Linked DNA regions of Homo sapiens: region 2 is linked to region 1. A link means that fine-mapping ties the variant in region 1 to the expression of a gene that starts in the linked region. Tissue or cell type: whole blood. Region 1 holds a variant in brackets; the other region holds the start of a gene. All regions are shown on one strand. Distances are from middle to middle.

The links. PIP is the estimated chance that this variant, and not a neighbour inherited with it, causes the effect.
Region 2: it holds the start of DESI1, and the variant in region 1 is fine-mapped to the expression of DESI1 in whole blood (TOPMed, PIP above 0.99). The same link has a PIP of 0.9 or more in cerebellar hemisphere.

Annotation. Positions count from the first base shown.
Region 1 is chr22:42,092,653-42,100,754 of GRCh38, reverse strand. All of the region lies in intron 3 of NDUFA6-DT (NDUFA6 divergent transcript), which reads right to left. Among named protein-coding and RNA genes, the nearest start is that of NDUFA6-DT, 5.8 kb to the right of the region's middle. The variant G/C (reference allele first, on the strand shown) is at 4,244.
Region 2 is chr22:41,615,954-41,624,055 of GRCh38, reverse strand. It overlaps DESI1 (desumoylating isopeptidase 1), which reads left to right and starts at 3,013. Exons shown (of 6, transcript NM_015704.3): 1 at 3,013-3,304. The coding sequence starts at 3,217. XRCC6 (X-ray repair cross complementing 6) reads right to left here and starts at 2,761. Exons shown (of 13, transcript NM_001469.5): 1 at 2,711-2,761; 2 at 1,970-2,066. The coding sequence starts at 2,051. RefSeq lists a silencer at 2,993-3,262 and enhancers at 2,994-3,595, 4,868-4,927, 4,938-5,007.

The sequences.
Region 1 (8,102 bases):
CACCTAGGCTGGAGTGCAATGGCATGATCTCAGCTCACTGCAACCTCTGCCTCTCAGGTTCAAGCGATTCTCCTGCCTCAGCCTCCCAAGTAGCTGGAATTATAGGTGTGCACCATCACGCCAAGCTAAATTTTGTATTTTTAGTAGAGATGGGGTTTCACCATGTTGGCCAGGCTGGTCTCGAACTCCTGACCTCAGGTGATCCGCCTGCCTCGGCCTCCCAAAGTGCTGGGATTACATGCATGAGCCACCGCACCCGGTCTACCCTCATCACTTCTGTATGATATTGTGCTAGAAGCTCTAGCCAGTGAACAAGTCAAAAAAGAGAAGTAAAAGGCAATCAGATTGGAAAGAAAGAAATAAAACTGTATTTTCAAATAACATGATTGTGTGTAAAATCCTGTGGGATCATCCAAAAAGCAACTACAGCTTAACAAGGCTGAAGGATGCAAGATCACTGTATTAAAATCAATTATATTGCTATATAATAGGAATAAACAATTGGGAATTAAAACTTCTTAAAAACCAGTTATAACAGCATCCAAAATATAAAATACATAGACAAAAAATATAACAAAAGCTACATGCAAAATCATACACTAATAACTACAAAACATTGCTGAGAGAAATTAAAGACGATGTAAATCAATGAAGAGCCATACCATGGTCATGAATCAGAAGACTCAACATTTTAAAGATGTCAGTTCCTCTCAAATTAATCTATAGATTCAGTGTAATCAATAAAAATTCCAGCAATTTTCTTGTTGAAATTGATTGCTTTTTCTAAAATTCATAGAGGAATGCAACTCAGGCCGGGCAAAGTGGCTCATGCCTGTAATCCCAGCACTTTGAGAGGCCAAGTCAGGTTGGTTGCTTGAGTCCAGGAGTTCGAGACAAGCCTGGGCAACGTGGTTAAACCCTGTCTCTACAAAAAGTACAAAAATTAGCTGGGTGTGGTGGTGCATGCCTGTAATTCCAGCTACCCGGGAGCCTGAGGCAGGAGAATCTTTTGAACCTGGGAGGCAGAGGTTGCAGTGCACCGAGATCGTGCCACTGCACTTCAGCCTGGGCGACAGAGTGAGACTCCATCTCAAAAAAAAAAAATACAGTTATGAACATGTTGAAAAAATAAAAAAGAGTCTCAGCATAGAAATAGGAGATATAAGGAAGAATCAGATAGAAATTTTAGAAATAGAAAATACAACAACGAAATAAAAAGCTCAGTGAATGGGCTCAAAAGTGGAAAAGAGGACAACACAAGCAGTTAACTGGAAGACAGGACAACAGAAATTACTCAATCTGAACAACAGAGAGAAAATGGACTGGAAAAAGTAAACAAGAAAGAAAAGAGAAAATAAAAGAGGCCGGTACAGTGGCTCATGCCTGTAACCCCAGCACTTTGGGAGGCTGAGGTGGGTGGATCATGAGGTCAGGAGATCGAGACCATCCCTGGCTAACACGGTGAAACCCCGTCTCTGCTAAAAATACAAAAACGAAATTAGCCGAGCATGGTGGTGGGCACCTGTAGTCCCAGCTACTCGGGAGGCTGAGGCGGGAGAATGGTGTGAACCCGGGAGGCAGAGCCAAGATCGCGCCACTGTACTCCAGCCTGGGCGACAGAGCGAGACTCCATCTCAACCAAAAAAAAAAAAAAAAAAAAAAAAAAAAAGAAGAAAAGAAAAGAAACAAATAATAAACACAACCTCAGGGCCTGTGAGACTGTTAATAAAAGATCAGAGTGGGGCATGATAGCTCATCCCTGTAATCCCAGCATTTTGGTAGACAGAGGCAGAAGGATTGCTTGAGCCCAGGAGTTTGGGGCCAGCCTGGACAACATAGGAGGGGGCCGGGCGTGGTGGCTCTCGCCTGTAATCCCAGCACTTTGGGAGGCCAAGGCAGGCGGATCATGAGGTCAAGAGATTGAGACCATCCTGGCCAACTTGGTAAAACCCCGTCTCTACCAAAAATTCAAAAATTAGCCAGGCATGGTGGCAGGCACCTGTAATCCCAGCTACTCAGGAGGTTGAGGCACGAGAATCACTGGAATCTGGGAGGCAGACATTGCAGTGAGCCAAGATCATGCCACTGCACTCCAGCCTGGTGAAAGAGCGAGACTCCGCCTCAAAAACAAAAAAATTGAGTGTGGTGGTGCACACCTGTGGTCCCAGCTACTCTGGGGACTGAAGTGGGAGGAACGCTTCGGCCTGGAAGGTCTAGGTTGCAGTGAGCCATGATTCTGCCACTGTACTCCAGCCTGGATAACAGAGCAAGACCCTGTCTCAAAAAAATACATTAATAAATAAATAATCAAATGAACAAATATTCAAAGAAAACTTTCCTACTTGGCAAAATGCATAAAACAATAGATTCAAGAAGCTGAGAGAATTCCAATTGGGATAAACCCAAAGAAGTTCACACCAAGATACATTATAGTCAAACTTCTGAAAACAAAACAAAAAAATTTTTTGAAAGCAGCCAGAGAAAAACAATATGTTACTTATATAGAAAAAATAATTTGAATGACAGCTTATTTCTCATCAGAGACAACAGAAACCAGAAAGAAGTGACACAACACTTTTCCATTGTTAAAAAAACTATCAACTCAGAATCCCATATCCAATGAAAATATCCTTCAAGAATGCTGGGGGAAATTGTAAAATTCTCAAAGGAAGGAAAACTAAAAGAATTTGTCACCAACTAATATGTGCCCAGTTGGTTTTTTACAAAGGTGCTGATGCAATTCAATGGAGGAAAAATGGCTTTTCAACAAATGGTTCTGGAGTAATCAGATATTCATAGGCAAGAAAATGAACCTTGAAATAAATCTTACATTATATACAAAAATTACAACAAGGTGCAGTGGCTCATGCCTATAATTCCAGCATGGCAGGTAGATCACTTGAAGTCAGGAGTTCAAGACCAGCCTGGCCAACGTGGTGAAACCCTGTCTCTACTAAAAATACAAAAATTAGCTGGGCGTGATGGTGCGCATCTATAATTCCAGCTACTTTGGAGGATGAGACACCAGAATCGCTTGAACCTGGGAGGCAGAGGTTGCAGTAAGCCAAGATCATGCCACTGCACTCCAGCCTGGGTGAGGGAATAAGACTGTCTCAAAGAAAAACAAAAACCAAAAAACAAAAACCAAACCAAACCATGGACTTAAATGTACATCATCAAACATTTAGGAGAAAATCTTCTGGACCTAGAGCTACACAAGGCATTTTTAGTCTTGACACTAAAAGCACAATCCATAACAGGAAAAATAATAAAATAGATTTCATCAAAATTAAGCACTTTTACTCTGTGAAAGACCCTGTTCAGAGGATGAAAAGGCATAGAGTGGGAGAAAATATTTGCAAACTACGTATCTGATAAAGGACTAGTATCTAGAATATATAAAGAACTCCCAAAACTCAAAAATAAATAATCTAAATAAAAATGTGCAAAAGACATGAAAAAGCACTTCAGTAAAGAGAATATACACATTGGAAATAAACTTGGGAAAGGATGTTCAATATCACTAGCCATTAAGGAAATGCAAACTAAAACTACAATGGGCTATCCCTGTACACTTATTCCAAATGGCTAAATGTAAACAGTTGCTACACCAAATGTAGAAGAGGATGTGGAGAAACTAGATCACTCATGAATTGCCAATGAGAATGTAAAATGATTCAGTTATTCTGGAAAACAATTTGGTAGTTTTTTTTTTTTTTCCCTGAGACGGAGTCTTGCTCTGTCACCCAGGCTGGAGTGCAGTGGTGTGATCTCGGCTCACTGCAACCTCTGCCTCCTGGGCATGGTGGCGTACGCCTATAATCCCAGCTACTTGGAAGGCTGAGGCAGGAGAATCGCTTGAACCCGGGAGGCGGAGGTTACAGTGAGCTGAGATCGTGCCATCGCACTCCAGCCTGGGTGACAGAGTGAGACTCCATATCAAAAAAAATAAAAATAAAAAAAGAGAGAGAGGAAAAAGAGGTTTAATTGATTCAGTTCTGCAGGCTGTGCAAGCATGGCTCCAGCATCTGCTCCTGGTGAGGGCCTCAGGAAGCTTCAAATCCCAGCAGAAGGAAAAGGGAGAGCAGGGATGTCACATGGTGACAGCAGGAACAAGAGAGCAAAGCGGGAGATGCCACACACCTTTAACAACCAGATTACAGATGAACTCACTCATCACCAAGGGGATGGTGCTAAGCCGTTCATGAGGGATCTGCCTCCATGATCCATTCACCTTCCACCA[G/C]GCTTCAACTCCAACACTGGGGATGACATTTTGACGAGATTTGGAAGGGACAAATATCCAAACCGTATCACCATATTTTGTGTTTTGTTTAGGTTTGTTTTTTTGTCACCCAGGCTGGAGTACAGTGGTAGGATCATAGTTTATGGTAGCCTCGAACTCCTGGCTTCAAGCAATCCTCCTACCTCAGCCCCTCGAGTAGCTGGGACTATAGACACGTACCACCATGCTTGGCTATTTTAAACAAATTTTTGTAGAGATGCTATCGGGCAAAATTCACCCCTGATATTTCACGTAGGTTCTTTTCTATTTTCCCTAAGTGTCGGCCGGTCTGAGAAATAAAGGGACAGAGTACAAAAGAGATAAATTTTAAAGCTGGGTGTCCGGGGGAGACGTCACATGTCAGCAGGTTCCGTGATGCCCCCTGAGCCATAAAACCAGCAAGTTTTTATTATCGATTTCAAAAGGGAAGAGAGTGTACGAATAGGGTGTGGGTCACAGAGATCACATGCTTCACAAGGTAATAAGATATCACAAGGTAAATGAAGGCAGGGCGAGTTCACAGGACCACAGGACCGGGGCGAAATTAAAATTGCTAATGAAGTTTTGGGCATGCATTGTCACTGATAACATCTTATCAGGAGACAGGGTTTGAGAGCAGACAACCGGTCTGACCAAAATTTATTAGGTGGGAATTTCCTCATCCTAATAAGCCTGGGAGCGCTACAGGAGACTGGGGCTTATTTCATCCCTACAGCTGTGACTGTAAAATACAGCCACCCCCCAAGTGGCCATTTCAGAGGCCTACCCTCAGGGACGCATTCTCTTTCTCAGGGGCGTTCCTTGCTGAGAAAAAGAATTCAGCGATATTTCTCCCATTTGCTTTTGAAAGAAGAGAAATATGGCTCTGTTCCGCCCGGCTCACTGGCAGTCAAGAGTTTAAGGTTATCTCTCTTGTTCCCTGAACGTTGCTGTTATCCTGTTCTTTTTTCAAGGTGCCCAGATTTCATATTATTCAAACACACATGCTCTACAAACAATTTGTGCAGTTAATGCAATCATCACAGGGTCCTGAGGCGACATACATCCTCCTCAGCTTACGAAGATGACGGGATTAAGAGATTAAAGACAGGAATAGGAAATCACAAGGCTATTGATTGGGGAAGTGATAAGTGTCCATGAAATCTTCACAATTTATGTTCAGAGACTGCAGTAAAGACAGGTGTAAGAAATTATAAAAGTATTAATTTGGGGAACTAACAAATGTCCGTGAAATCTTCACAATTTATGTTCTTCTGCCACGGCTTCAGCCGGTCCCTCCGTTCGGGGTTCCTGACTTCCCTCAACAGATGCAGTCTCACTATGTTGCCCAAGCTGTTCTCAAACTCCTGGCCTCAAGCAATCCTGACATTATAGGAATGAGCCACCATGCCTGGGTGACAGACCACCTTCTGTTTATCCACTTATCAACAGATAGCCATTTGGGTGTTTTTAGTTTTTGGCTATGGTGAATAATGCTGCTATGAACATTTGCATACAAGTCTTTGTGTGGAAAAAAATTTCTTCAGGGTAAATACCTAGGATTGGAATTGCTGGATCATATAGTAAGTCCACGTTTAACTTTTTTTTTTTTTTTTAAATACGGTCTCATTATTTTGCCTAGTCTGGTCTCAAACTCCTAAGCTCAAGCAATGCTTCTGCCTCGGCCTCTTACAAGTGAGTACCACCACTCCTGGCCATATTTAACTGTTTAAGAAACTGCCAGACTGTTTTCCCAAATGGCTACACCATTTTACATTCCCACCAGCAAAGTATAGAAAGTTCTAATTTCTCTATATCCTTGCCAACACTATCTTTTGTCTTTTTTTTTTTTTTTTTGAGATGGAGTCTTGCTCTGTCACCCAAGCTGGAGTGAAATGGCATGATCTGGGCTCACTGCAACCTCCACCTCCCGGGTCAAGCAATTCTCCTGCCTCAGCCTCCCTAGTAGCTGGGATTACAGGCATGCACTACCATGCCCAGCTAATTTTCCTATTTTTAGTAGAGAGGAGGTTTTACCACGTTGGCCAGGCTGGTCTCAAACTCCTGAACCCAAGTGATCTACTGGCCTTGGCCTCTCAAAATGCTGGGATTACAGGTGTGAGCCACCGTGACTGGCTGTGTCTGCCTTTTTCACTCTAGCCATTCTACTGGGTGAGAAATGGTATCTCACGAGGGTTTTGATTTTTATTTCCCTAATGGCTCATGATGTTGAATGTCTTTTCATGTACTTATTGGTCACCCGTATATCCTCTTTGGAGAAATGGTTATTCAAATACTTTACCCATTAAAATAAAAATTTCATCTTTAAGAGCAGTTTCGAGTTCACAGCAAAACTGAACAGAAAATACAGGGTTCCCCCACCCCACACACACTCATAGCCTCCCCCCACCAACAACATCAGGCACCAGAGGATATATTTGTTATAAGCAATGAAGCTACATTGACACACCAGTATCACCCATATCCCATAGTTTACATTAGGTTTCATTCTTGGTGTTGTACATCCTGTAGGGTTTGACAAATGTGTAATAACATGTATCCACCATTATAACATCCAGAGTAATTTCACTACCCTAAATATTCTCTGTGCACCACCTCTGTGCATTTCTCCCCACTCCCAGCCCCTGCCATCTTTTTTATTGTCTCCATAGTTTTGCCTTTTCCAGGATGTAATATAGTTGGAATCATACAGTATGTAGCTCTTTCAGATTGTCTTCTTTCACTTACTAATATGCATTTAAGGTTTCTCCATGCCTTTTCATGGCTTAATAGCTCATTTCTTTCTAGTGCTGAATATAGTCCATTGTCTGGATATACCAAGGTTTATTTATCCATTTACCTGCTAAAGGACATCTTGGTTGCTTTCAAGTTTTGGCAATTACAAATAAAGCTGCTGCTGGCCGGGAGCGGTGGCTCACGCCTGTAGTCCCAGAACTTTGGGAGGCCAAGGCGGGCAGATCACGAGGTCAGGAGATCGAGACCATCCTGGCTAACATGGTGAAACCCCGTCTCTACTTAAAATACAAAAAATTAGCTGGGCTTCGTGGCAGGCGCCTGTAGTCCCAGCTACTTGGAGGCTGAGGCAGGAGAATGGCGTGAACCCAGGAGGCAGAGCTTCCAGTGAGCCGAGATCGCGCCACTGCACTCCACCCTGGGTGACAGAGCGAGACTCCATCTCAAAAACAAAAACAAAAACAAAAGCTGCTGTAAACATCCATGTGCAGGTTTCTGTGTGGACATAAGTTTTCAGCTCATTTGGGTAAACACTAAGGAATGCAATGGCTGGATCTTCTGATGGGAGTATGTTTAGTTTTGTCAGAAAGCCAAACTGTCTTCCAAAGCTGCTGTACCATTTTGCGTTCCTACCAGTAAGGAGAGTTCCTGTTGCTTCACATCCTCACCAGCATTTGGTGTTGTCTCCCTTGCCCATTTCTAAACTTGGCTATTTGTCTTTTCATTACTGAGTTGTAAGAATTTTATGTATCCTAGATACAAGTCCCTTATGGAACATGTGATTTGCAAAAATTTTCTCCCAGTTTGTGGGTTGTTTAGAGGTCTTTTTTTTCTTTTCCTTTTGAGACAGGGTCTCACTCTGTCGCCCAGACTGGAGTCCAGCGGCGCAATCTTGGCTCACCGCAACCTCCACCTCGCGGGCTCAAGCGATCCTCCTGCCTCAGCCTCCCGAGTAGCTGAGATTACAGGTGCCCACCACCATGCCGGCTAATTTTTGTATTTTTAGTAGAGACGGGGGTTTCACCATGTTGGCCAGGCTGGTCTCGAACTCCTGACATCAGGTGATACACCTGCCTTGGCCTCCCAA
Region 2 (8,102 bases), 480 kb after region 1:
GGCCAAATTATGGTATATTTAAAATGAGCTATAGGCCACGCACAGTGGCTCACACCTGTAATTCCAGCACTTTGGGAGGCCGAGGTGGGTGAATCACCTAAGGCCAGGAGTTCAAGACCAGCCTGGCCAACATGGTGAAACACTGCCTCTACTAAAAATACAAAAATTAGCCGAGTGTGGTGGCGCACACGCCTGTCATCCCAGCTGCTTGGGAGGCTGAGATGGGAGAATAGCCTGAACTGGGGTGGCGGAGGTTGCAGTGAACCGAGATTGAGTCAGTGCACTCCAGCCTGGGCGACAGAGCAAGACTCTGTCTCAATAAATAAATAAATGTATATGCACTATCGTTACAATACAAGAAATCAGATAGGCCAGGCGCAGTGGCTCACACTTGTAATCCCAGCACTTTGGGATGCTGAGTAGGGCGGATCACAAGGTCAGGAGATCAAGACCATCCTGGCTAACACAGTGAAACCCCGTCTCTACTAAAAATACAAAAAACTGGCCGGGCGTGGTGGTGGGCGCCTATGGTCCCAGCTACTCGGGAGGCTGAGGCAGGAGAATGGCATGAACCCGGGAGGCGGAGCTTGCAGTGAGCCAAGATCGCGCCACTGCACTCCAGCCTGGGCGACAGAGCAAGACTGTCTCCAAAAAAAAAGAAAAAGAAATCAGATACAGTCTGGGCATGGAGGCTCATGACTATAAACCTAGAACTTTGGGAGGCCAAGGCTTGGGGGTATCGCTTGAGGCCAAGAGTTTGAGACCAGCCTGATCAACATAGCAAGATCCTGTCTCTACAAAAAATTAAGAAATTATTGGGAGTTGGCGGCACTTGTAGTCCCAGCTACTGAGGTAGCTGAAGCAGGAGGATCACTTGAGCCCGGGAGTTTGAGGTTACAGTGAGCTACGATGATCTCACCACTGCACTCCAGCCTGTCTCTATTAAAAAATTAAAAAATATATATATTTCATTAGGAAATAAATATTGAAAGATACTTGAAAGAAAAATACAAAAATGTCAAAATGCTGGTAGTGGTTGTGTTAGAGTGGTAGATTATAGCAAATTTTTTTCTTTTTTGTATTTCCTATGTTTCTCACTTTTTTTTTTTTCCTGAGAGAGTCTCATTCTGTCACCCAGGCTGGAATGCAGTGGCGCCATCTCGGCTCACTGCAAGCTCCACCTCCCAGGTTCGCACCATTCTCCTGCCTCAGCCTCCCGAGCAGCTGGGACTACAGGCGACCGCCACCACGCCCGGCTAATTTTTTGTATTTTTTTTTTAGTACAGACGGGGTTTCACCGTGTTAACCAGGATGGTCTTGATCTCCTGACATCGTGATCCGCCCGCCTCGGCCTCCCAAAGTGCTGGGATTACAGGCTTGAGACACCGCGCCTGGCCGTTTCTCATTTTTAATAAAAATATTCAAAATTTTTCTGCTCAGGAGTTAAATTAACCAGTATGAAGATTACATGTACCCCTATTTCTCTTCCTTTGTTTTATGTGTTACTGTGTTGCCTGCACATACACTCCCAAACGTGGAGGCTATAGTGAGGGAATCAATCACTTTCCTGTAACTGTGTTGCTTGCGTTTATTCTTTGGTTGGTGTAGTTATTGCAGGGTGGGGGCATTTTTACACTGAGGTCCTGGAATGGTAACACTACTTTCCTGGATGAGAAGGGTCTCACCTGAACCACTTAAGATGACAAAAAATACCTATGGTCATGGCCATTTATCAGGGACCAAAAGATGTCAAACTACCAGTGTCCAAAAAAAACTTAGGGCACACTAGAGTAAGATCTGCATATAAGAGCCTAGGGTAGCTCTGCGAAGTTCAAAGGAAGAAAAGAATTTCAGAATTATCTGGGAGGAGAAGGGCAGGCCATCAAACAGCAAAGTCCATCCAGCAGAGATAGGCAGGGAAGGTCTTTCTTCCACACACCGAATGGCACTACATGCTGAAGTCACTTACCACTTGCTTCAAGGTTCTCTTCTTGTTCTTCCTCTGCTTCTTCATCGCCCTCGGTTTTGTAATATGACTCCCACCCTGACATGTTGGCTACTGCTCACTAGGCGAAAGACGTTAACGTCAGTAACAGGCAAATTTAAATCGAAAAAATACCGACCTCTAGGTTCTTGTGAGATCTGTTCTAAAAGCTTGGTTAGTAGTGAGGAATGTGGACGGTAAATCCTGCTGCCTCGAAAGCTCGGCAGTCGGACTGCATGTAAATGCGCATGGGGGCCATCCCAGTAGCTGCCTCATCTCAGCTATCCCTCACGTTTCAGGGCCGGCGGCGGCCCGCGGAAGCCAGATCCCGGAGGTCCCGCCCCCGACGCCATTTAGACGGTGAGGGATTCCCGCTCCAGGATTCTATGCTGACTAACGGACCCCCTCGTCCTCAATACCGCCCAAAAACCTCCCCAAATTCCTCAATCACGCCCAATGAGATCTCAAACGCAGACAGGCCTCAAGCGCAGGCGGGCCGCAAGCGCAGGCGGGCCTCAAACGCAGGCGGGCCTCAAACGCGAGGTGCCGCCTCCTTCCCGAGGAAGGAGCGTGGTCTCGAGTCTGTCGCTGCTCCTCGGATTCGCACACTTAAGGCTAACGCTAACCCTCTAGCAAGGCTATGGGGGCGCGCGAGACCGACCGAGCGAAGCGGGACGAGGCCAGGCCTAGCTGGCGAACAACACAAATGGATAACGGCCCGCTTACCTTTGGCGCAGGGAAGCGACCAACTTGGACAGAAGACGACAATCCACGCATGCGCGGGCCCTGTACTCGGTCCCAATCAACGCCCTCTACGTCATCACGCATGTGCGCACTATATCGCGTCAGGCTGGCACGCACACTCCCCAACCAGCTTCTACCTATGTCCCTGACGAAAGCCAACCCATCAGCGAGAGCCCCGCCCCCTTCGGCAAAGCCCCGCCCCTTCCTACGTCAGGACTGTAAGCACATGCGCAAAAGTGCATCCCTGCCCCCGCCCCCTCTTCCGTGTGGGCCCTCCCTGTCCCCTCTCTGTCACCTCACAGTAGTCGTTGCCGGTAGCGGGTGTGGGGGCGCGAGCAGCGCAGGGCGGCCTCTCCCCCACCCCTCAGCCCGGGCCCGGGCTCGGTCCCCCCCTCTCCCTCCGCTTCGCACTCCCGTCGGGTACGGGAAGGTCCAAGCCGCTGCCGGGTGCCCGAGGGCCGTCGTGGCCGCCGTCGCCACGGGTCCCAATGGAGCCGCCGAATCTCTATCCGGTGAAGCTCTACGTGTACGACCTGTCCAAAGGCCTGGCCCGGCGGCTCAGCCCCATCATGCTGGGTGAGGGGGAAGGGGCCAGGTGGGCAGGAGGGCGGGAGCCAGGCCAGAGGGTGGCGGCTGGCCGAGGTGGGGAGACTTGGGCCACGACTCACGGGGAGACACATGGCCAGGAGGATGGAAGAAAAGCCGAGTGGAGAAGAGAGTGGTCTGAAGTTTGGGCCATCTGAGCCCCGCTTTAGCCTCGCAGATACCATCCTCACGTTTGAATTCAAGGGGAAGGGATGGAGGAGTCATGCCTCCACCTTGCAGGGGGCTTGGGCAGAAACCGAGCCCTCGAGAGCCCCTTCGACGAGGGTGTGGGGTAAACCAGCGCTGGATCCCGGCGGGTTCTCTGCCTCGCTCGGGTAGCCCAGTGCACTCCTGCCTCCTTGGCGCGGTGTAGGAAAGGTGAGGATGCCTGCCGCGCGGTGCCCCTCGTGGTGACAGAGACACTGCGGAGGTCGGGTGGCTCTCGGAGAACCTTGTCTCAGTGCCAAAAGGAAGCTCCCTTTGCAGTCCCAGGGATAGGTGGGATGGGGGAGATAGAGCTGCCTAGGGACCCAGCCATCGCCCCCAGGTAGGTCAAGTCAGGATAAGAGGAGCCCCGAACTCCAGAATTCACCAAGCAGTCTTCTCCCCACAGTTTCTAAGTTAATTGCTTTTGCTCAAATGGCAAGAAAGCAGTTTTGGGGGAAGTTTGGATGAGGCTGTGTGAATAAGGATTAGTAAAGAAAGTATTTCGGTTGTGCTCCATTAAACTACTTAACTGGCAGGAGAAAAACCAGCCCTCATTCAGTGACGATCACACCTTATTTCAACTTAAATACAGGAATGTCTTGTGTAACACAGGAATTGTCAGGTTTGTAATTTCGGGTAACAATGAGCAGGAAAGAATTCCAATTATTGAAAATTGAAGCTTTGACAGCATCCATTTGAATGGCTAGTTTTTCCTGGCTTCTGTGGAGACACTGGCGAATGATTTAGTTCATCTCTGTGAGACGAGGGGGCAGAGATCAAGTAAGGGAGGCTACTTTTGAGGGCATCCTTCAATGTCCTTGAGTTTCTAATATGTCGTAGTGAATTGAACTTAATCTCACAACCGTGGGTCCATGAGTTGTTTCTATATTTGGCTTCACATCAAAATCATCTAGGGTGCTTGTTAAAAATGCAGATACCCTCATTTCCAACATATATTGTAAATGAGATTAGAAAAAACAAGGTTAGAATAGCTCTTTAAATATGCAAATCAAAGGATATATATGTGCTTGCTTAGGCAAATAATTATCCGTAAGGATACACAAGAAATTGATAACAGCAGTAGCTTATGGAAAGGGGAACTTGATGCCAGGGGAACAGGGGTAGAAGAGAAACTTTGCTGTAAACTGTTTCTTACCTCTGGACCTGTGTATTACATACACATAATATCTATTTAAAATGAGAAAATTTTAATTATATGGATTCTAAGGCTTCACAAATACTAAATCAGAATCTCCTGGAGTTTTGGTCCAAAAATCTGTATTTTTAATGAGCTTATCAGCTAATTCTTATGTAGCCAACCCATTATTTGACAGGGATTTGGGCCTAGATAACCAGTTGTTAAAATGATTGAGGCACATCTGAAAGCAAAACTTACAAAGTCACTGAGGAAGCTGTTACTCATTAATAGATTACATCAGTCAAGTGTTTTTTTTTTGTTGGTTTTTTTTTTTGAGACGGAGTCTCGCTCTGTCACCCATGCTGGAGTGCAGTGGCACGATCTAGGCTCACTGCAAGCTCCGCCTCCCGGGTTCACGCCATTCTCCTGCCTCAGCCTCCCGAGTAGCTGGGACTACAGGCGCCCGCCACCACAGCCGGCTAATTTTTTGTATTTTTAGTATAGACGGGGTTTCACTGTGTTAGCCAGGATGGTCTCGATCTCCTCACCTTGTGATCCGCCTGCCTTGGCCTCCCAACGTGCTGGGATTACAGGCGTCAGCCACCATGCCCAGCCCACATCAGTCAAGTTTTAACTAAACTTCTTGGAATGGAGCCATTTAGTTGTTTGTTTTTTTATCATAGTGAGGAATCAGATATTTCCTATACCCCACGTAAAACCTCCCCCTTTACACTGGGTATTTTTTATCCTATTACCTAATAATTATTGGGCAGCTGAAAGGAGCCTTAGGAGTCATTATTTCATTCATTCAGCAGATGTTTATTGAGCGTCTGCTCTATGCTAGTCAACGTGTTAAGGTAAATGAGGTTGATATAATGAACAAAGATGTTCTTTGCCATCATGGAGCTATCTAATGGGGGAGACATTAAAAATAAATACATAAATAATTAGTTACAAATTGCATAAGTGCCTTCTGCACAGGAAGCACACTGGGTGCTGTGATAGAAAATAACAAGAGAGACCTTTTTTTTTTTTTTAGACGAGTCTTGCTCTGTTGCCCAGGCTGGAGTGCAGTGGGGTGATCTCAGCTCACTGCAACCTCTGCCTCCCAGGTTCAAGTGATTCTCCTGCCTCAGCCTCCAGAGTAGCTGGGATTACAGGCGCATGCCACCACACCTGGCTGATTTTTATATTTTTAGTAGAGACAGGGTTTCACCATGTTTGCCAGGCTGGTCTTGAACTCCTGACCTCAAGTGATCCGCCCGCCTCAGCCTCCCAAAGTGCTAGGATTACAGGCATGAGCCACTGCACCCAGTGAAGAGACCTATTTTAAATAAGGGTATCAAGGGTAGTGACTTTGAAAGTGGGAATTTAGGATGAGGAAGAAGTAGCCACAGGAGGGTAGTAAGGGAGTAACAGTGTTCCAGGTAGGAGAAAGATCAACCTGCCAAAGCCCTGAGACAGGAAAGAGTCTGGCCTGATACTGGAACTGAAAGAAGGCTTTTGTGGAGTGTAGTGGGTGAAGGGGAAAGTGCTGTAACTGAAGATGGAGTAATAGACCTGCCCCCTTCCCACTCCCCGCCCTTTTATATAGATGTAAAGTCCTGGAATGCCTCAGCCAAACATGGGAACATCACCCATTCATTGGGCACATCAGATTCTGATCTGAGGAAATCACCTTGTGTGCTAATCTACTTCTGTCTTCTCTACCTCTTTTTTCCATATTGCTTTTATACCTTTTGCAAAATTAATGAAGAAAGAATTAGCAAAGCTAGTAGTCATTACTTTCTAGAGTTGAACACTTAAGGAAAATAGGCATGGTCTTACTGATTCATCCCATTCAGACAACACAAATCTTGAAGTTGGGTATGTCCCAGTGCTATAAGTAGCCATATATTGATTTCCCATTCCTAAATACATTTGAACCTTTAAAAAATCAATTTGTTTCCTGATTTTTATGATGAATTCTAGAAGTATATTAATAGCCACTATTTATTGAGAGCTTACCATGTGTCAGACCCTTTTTTTCTGAGTACTTTGCGTGCATTATAATCCTCACCACAACTTTGTGAGATAAGTCCTGTTATTGCCTCCATTTTCTTGATTGAAGAACCTGAGAAGTAGAGTGTTAAGGAATTTGCCCCAGGTCCCAGAGCTACTAGGTGGTAGAGCTGGGTTATGAACACAGGCAGTCTGACTTCCAGAGCTCGCGTTCTCTGTCATTTTGAGATACCACCTCTGTGTAATACGTTCCTTTAAAATTGAAGTAAAGTAGATGCCTTCCTGAAGTTTGTAAAGGCATCCTTTGCCAAATGTTTCAAGTTTGGATGAGAAAAAAAGCTGGGTTCAATGTGTATGTGCCACTTACAATCTAGATTTATGATCATGCCTCTTAGTCTCCATTTTCCCAAATTAAATCCATGTGATCTCATCTGCAGTACCCTCTCAGGCTTCAGTTATGTCAGTTCTCCAATGGGAGACCTCATCTAGCTCTGTCGCAGTTCAGGATTAGACTAGATAAAGCCCAAGGTAATTCCCCTTTCCTGAAGCAATGTAAATTCCGTAGTTTTAGCCTGTCCTGTTTTCAGCCTCCTGGAATTGCCTCAAGTGAAGGCATTACTGTTCTATAGCTTTTCATTCACTATGAAAAATGGTCCCAAAATTATCTTCAGCATTCTAATTGAGCAGATAGCCTCATTGCACCTTTTTTCATAGTCACCAATTGCCTAAAATAATTAGCTATTATAAGTGTCCTTCAGTTCCTCCTCTTAATAATTTTGGCTGCTCTTTAAGTTTCTTGACCTCTTTTTGTGCCACAGTACATGCAGAAGTGTGTGTGTGTGTGTGTGTGTGTGTGTGTGTGTGTGTGTGTTTTAATTGTGGTAAGAAGTACTTCATATTTGTTTATTATTTTCTGATCAGAAGTTTCGTGTACATGCATCACGTTTATTTTTCTTTACAAGCCCATTTCAAAACTGTTTTCAGACTTAAAGATTTGGAGACATAGAATATATAAATTGCTTGGCAGAATGAATTCTAATGAATATTAGAGATTTTACACTATACTCAATTCTTTACTTCATTTTGTAGTACAAATAGTAATGAAATAAAAGATATGACGTGAACTCTGTCCTCCAGGAATTTTTCTTTTTTTGAGGCAGAGTTTCACTCTTGTTGCCCAGGCTGGAGTGTAATGACACGATCTCGGCTCACTGCAACCTCCGCCTCCTGGGTTCAGGCAGTTCTCCTGCCTCAGCCTCCCAAGGAGCTGGGATTACAGACATGTGCCACCATGTCCAGCTAATTTTTCTATTTTTAATAGAGACTGGGTTCCACCATGTTGGTCAGGCTGGTCTCAAACTCCTGATCTCAGGCGATCCACCCACCTTAGCTTCCCAAAATGCTGAACAAACCCCCCTCCCAAAGTAAGGCATGAGTCACCAT